2 separate regions of the Homo sapiens genome follow, and region 2 is linked to region 1. A link means that fine-mapping ties the variant in region 1 to the expression of a gene that starts in the linked region. Tissue or cell type: subcutaneous fat. Region 1 holds a variant in brackets; the other region holds the start of a gene. All regions are shown on one strand. Distances are from middle to middle.

Region 1 (2,690 bases):
CACTGGGTCAGCCCACCTAATCAGTAAATCTCAAACACATTCTAAATGTTCTGAATATTTAAAATCCATAATACTCTTGTGGAACAACTTGAAATCCTAATATACTTAATTCCACCATATAAATCAGGCATAATTTTATTAGAAAGTATATGATATGCATTTACTATTAAAAACCAAAACTACAAGAAAGTATGACTACAAAAAAGTTATGAATTTAAATAAGTGGAGTATAAGTATAAAGTGTTCAGTTCATTTGAAAATATAAATTATTGATGTTAACAGCTTCTAGTCAAACGATAGTAGGTCCGTTTAAAATATTTTAATAGAAATTAGAAAAGAAAATTAAAATTTGAAATATCCTACCCATTCTTTTCCTATACGATAATTAAGGAGTAGCTTTATTTTTATTAAGAGCATTTCAGTGTTCAATGAAAGCAAAGTTTGAAAAACCCTTCAATAAAGCTTTTCCTGTGAGAAGTCAATGTGGCAGACATATGATTCATAGGTGTTCATCTCTGGCCTCATCTTATAGCTCTAACCAATAATCCAATGGCAATACATATTTTCTTTCACAGCCCAGTTTCAAATGTTTTCCTTTGAGAGGTTTATCATAACCTTTGCCCCAAATTCTGACCCCCAACTCCCAGTATCTATAGGTTCCCAAGCTGGGAAGTTCTCCAAAGACATTCTCAATATCAAAACACTTAAAGGAAAATATCTGTCAAGGATCTGGAGAACTCAAACCCTGAATTGAATACTTCCACTTTTAGAATGTACATAAAGGAAACAAAACTAGTAGTATGTGTAAGACTGTTCACTGCAGTGTGATTATTCTAGTGAAAAATTGTAAAAAACCTAAAAGTTCCAATATGAGGGCTTGGTTAAAGGAAATGTTCACAATGTATTGAGAAAACAGAACACTAACATGAAAAATCTGAATGCTGGGAACAAAAACCCAACCTACACTATTCTCTATACTTTCGAAAAATATTTCGTAACTTAAGAAATCAGAATATAGCTGGGCGCAGTAGTTCACACCTGTAATCCCAGCACTTTGGGAGGCCAAGGCGGGCGGATCACCAGAGGTCAGGAGTTCGAGACCAGCCTGGCCAACATGGGGAAACCCCATTTCTATTAAAAATACAAAAATTAGCCGGGCGTGGTGGCGGGCGCTTGCAATCCCAGCTACTCGGGAGGTTGAGGCAGGAGAATCACTTGAACCCAGATGGCAGAGGTTGCAGTGAGCTGAGATTGTGCCATTGCACTCCAGCCTGGGCGACAGAGCAAGACTCCATCT[C/CA]AAAAAAAAAAAAAAAGAAAAGAGAAGATATCAGCATATAAAATTTGAATATGGAAATATTATTTTATCTTCCAAATTTTCTGTGATAAGCAATATACTGATTATACAAGAAAAAAACTTTCAAAAAGTAGAGCTGAAAGCATATGTTTACTATGATAAAGCTTATCAACCTACCTAAAACACTGAATTTCTATACTTTTCACTACTATTTTTTCAACTGAGTATGCTGTTATTTCTTCAGAAGTTCTGATCTTTATGGTCTTTATGAAGGAGAAAAATTATCTCTTATCTAAAAGTTGAATGATTTTTTGGGGGGTTAAAAAAAAAAAAAGACAAATCTTTCCAGAAGATGACATAAAGGGTTCGTTCCCTCAGTAGTAAAAAAATTTTTAATCGCAAAAACTTGCCTTCATTCAATTCATATCCATTAATGAATTTAATAACCACTGTAATATATCTGTTTTAAGAACACTTATGAGGGTTTTCAAATTTCAAATCAGGAATTAGCACATATAGACTGCACTTTTCTTCCCATATCATATTAACTCAAAGCCAGAAATTCAATTTTAATCTTCAATAGGCACACAGTGGTCATTCAAATGCTGTGAAAAAATGAACAGAGGAGAAAACAAAGAGTTTATGTAAAGAAATAAAATGGTAGACATGGTAGAATACTAAAATTATAAAGAAATTTTTTTTTCAAATAAATGAACCAGAACCACGGCATAAAGAGAATAGGTAAGCAAAAGAATCAGAGATGGTGTCAAAACCTAAAAGAAGCCATAAAATAGACAAATTATATGTCACTAGCAAAGTGGAAAACTCTGAAGCCTAACCTGCAAACGAAGAAGGCAATAAGAAACAAGCTGATTCACACTACCTACCCACAAACAGGATGCTTCAGACAGATCATCCAGGTACTATCCCTCCTTAAGGTAGTGAGGAGTTGGGCTCAAAATCAGAAGGTTTGTTGAAAGTCTACAAAACAGCCATCACATGCCCAGATTTCCTCCTCCACTCTTCACAACCAGACAACCATCCTTCAGTAATCCCTTCAAATGGGTGCTCCAATGCAGGTGAGGGTGGGGGTGAGGTGCCTTATTGATAACAGAATTACATGAGCACAACAGTAAAAACCCAAGCTCCTTTTCTAAAATGAGTTCTCAAAACATGGCAGCCAGACACACATTCTCCTGGCAAGAGACTGGAGACTCTCAGGGAAACTGACTAGCCCAAGAGAAACAAACCTATGAGTATATGCCCTCCACCCACCACAAAAAAAATGGCCACCAGCTACTCTCTTCACCCTTCAACAAGCCACACTTAATAGAGCTTCCAATTCAGTTTTTGGCACTTCATTCTTAAATATGAATGGACAGCCACAAGACTACCA
Region 2 (2,690 bases), 91 kb before region 1:
TTCTTATGACCAGTGTATGTTTTCAGGCACCTGCCTCTGCTATAATCCCATAGTTTAAGAGTGTTGTCCAAAGTTGCAGTGAGAATGTATTTACCATTTGGAGAAAATTTTACAAAAGAGACAGGAGGGTTATCGTCATCAACGAGCGTTTTTAAACACTGACCTGATGCAGCATCCCAGATTCTACAGAGGCCATCATAGCTACCTGACACTATCAAGGACCCACTACAATTAAAATGAACAGCAGAAACTGGGTCAGAATGAGCAGACAAAGTCTTGAGACACTTTCCTGTTTTCACCTCCCATATTTTTACAGTCTCATCAAAAGATCCCGAGATTATAAGGTTGGATGGCGGATTGAAGTTACAACAAAAGACATAATTACTGTGCCCCTTCAGTGTTTTCAAACATTTTCCAGATCTCACATCCCATAATTTTAGAGTTTTATCATCTGAGGCAGAAACAAGACGACTGGAATCTGATGACCAGGCAACATCCGATATTTCCAAATTATGACCATAGAGTGTTTTCTCATATTTTCCATCATATGCTCCCCAAATTATGATTAGCCTATCAGCAGAAGAACTTGCTAGCCATTCTCCATTAGGACTAAACTTAACTGATGACACTGCTTCCGTGTGTCCCACAAGAGTACATTTGAGAGCATAGTTTGGGTTTTCAGGCACTTCCTTGCTCTGATTGGCCGATGAGGAGAGGGCCAACTGTGCTTTGGCGTCTCTTGACTCCTTGGTTGCCATGGCTCTGAAGCTCCAAGTTAGCAGGTGTACTAGGCGTTCAGCCCTGAACCAGGCAGTCCAGTACTTTGGCTTTCTGCCCAGCAAAATGAAGATAAACGCACAGGATTTTAAAATGTACAGTTTTGAAAGCTTAAAGTTTCTGGACAGTCTTTAAACTGTGAGACGGAATCAGCAGCACGGCTTGGACTTCAAGTTTTCATCTTTTTGTTAAGTACTTGAGAAATACTGTTAGAAGGATCCTGTGCGCTGTCAGCAAGTAGGACACAAATGTTCGGCATTCCGTTAATACATAAAGCCTTCAAAGCAGGGGCGACGCGAGGGGCACTCTCTACAGAAAGTATTCTTTCACCGCCGCCCCCCTCCCCAGGTCGAAATGTTTCGGAATGCTGAGCAGCCCTACCAGTCAGGCTAGGTACTTGAAGATGAATGAACCGCCGCTTTTAGCGGATTTCAGAAGCTAAAAGCCTACGAAGCCACCGAAACTGGAAACTCTGGCCTGTCGGCTACTTTTGCTCGTACCAGCAGGTGTGCACTGCCGCGTCAATCTCCAACAAAGCCGGAAAAGCAGCCTGGCGCATGTGCAAAGGAAGTCCCTCCTACCACTACCGAGCCGAGATGACCAATGGGAGACGGCCATCTGCGCCTGCGCAAAAAAGTCGCCAATGTTCATTTCCGGTCTTTTTCGCCCCGCCCTTCAAATGCGAAAGCGACTGCCTTCTTGGGTGAGTGCATTAGCTGGGTAGGGTCTGTCCCGGACCTAACTGGATAGTGTGGGAAGCAGTGGATCGTTGTTTCAAAAACCATTTCTTTTTGGAAATTGTCACAGAGAAGGACTAGATTTGCGGATGCCTACCTTAGCTGCAGGCTTAGGCCCACACCTGACGCGTAAGCTGCCTAAACGGCAGCTAACGTAGATCCACCCAGACGCCGGAAACGGGGGAAGCTCCTGCTTTGCATGGGTTCCGCTCCCTCCTGTTTGTTGTGGTGTGGAGCCAGGTGGCATGTGTGGCGATGGAGTCACGGGGCGGGTGACAGAATTTATGCCAGATTGTAAAATTCCTGGTTTAAGTTTCCCCTGGAAAAGTTTCGTAAAGGTTAAGAAACGTGTCTGTTGAGGTCCTTTAAAAGCCGGTGCTCTGCTGGGAGTAACGAGCAAACGTTTGTTTTAGCATCTACGGCTTAAGCTTCCATAGAGAAGTCGGTATCTCAAAGTTGCTTGAAACAGAAAAGGACAAAGAGGTTGGTGGAATAGGGTAACGGATAAGGTTACTCTTAAGGAGGTTTTAGAGAGCTTTCCCCAGTTTTAGGAGATGATTAATGGTCATGAAAGTGTGTAAAATATACATGCTATTGAAGTTGCAACGAAAGACATAATTACTGTGCCCCTTTAGTGTTTTCAAACATTTTCCAGATCTCACATCCTATAATTTTAGAGTTTTATCATCTGAGGCAGAAACAAGACGACTGGAATCTGATGACCAGGCAGACTTTTAAACAATAGGTTTACCAAAAAACTGGAAGCCCTACTAGTTTCTCCAACCTGTTGTTGCTCAGTAAAGAGTGCCCGAGGCCGAGCACTCACGCCTGTAATCCCAGCACTTTGGGAGGCCCAGTCGGGCGGGACACTTTAGGTCGGGTGTCCGAGACCAGCCTGACCAACATGGCGCAACCAATACTGCTAAAAATACAAAAATTAGCTGCGCGTGATGGCGCACGCCTGTAGTCCCAGCTACTCAGGAGGCTGAGGTGGGAGAATGGCATGAACCAGGAGGTGGAGGGTGCAGTAAGCTGAGATTCCACCAGTGCACTCCAGCCTGGGCAACAGTGAGACTCCGTCTCAAAAAAAAAAAAAAAAAGAGTGCCCAAGAAAAGCAGAAAAAACGTGGCTTAAAAGATTTTACTGGTGGCTGGTCACGATGCAAATGTCTCATC

The links. PIP is the estimated chance that this variant, and not a neighbour inherited with it, causes the effect.
Region 2: it holds the start of WDR5B-DT, and the variant in region 1 is fine-mapped to the expression of WDR5B-DT in subcutaneous fat (FUSION, PIP 0.95).

What each region holds. Positions count from the first base shown.
Region 1 is chr3:122,506,143-122,508,832 of GRCh38, forward strand. All of the region lies in intron 1 of KPNA1 (karyopherin subunit alpha 1), which reads right to left. Among named protein-coding and RNA genes, the nearest start is that of KPNA1, 7.5 kb to the right of the region's middle. RefSeq lists enhancers at 2,387-2,436, 2,597-2,646. The variant C/CA (reference allele first, on the strand shown) is at 1,298.
Region 2 is chr3:122,414,771-122,417,460 of GRCh38, forward strand. It overlaps WDR5B-DT (WDR5B divergent transcript), which reads left to right and starts at 1,436. Exons shown (of 3, transcript NR_125405.1): 1 at 1,436-1,480. It overlaps WDR5B (WD repeat domain 5B), which reads right to left and starts at 1,292. Exons shown (of 1, transcript NM_019069.4): 1 at 1-1,292. The coding sequence starts at 758. RefSeq lists enhancers at 837-1,036, 1,272-2,089, 1,307-1,546, 1,577-1,626, 1,787-1,986 and 1 more.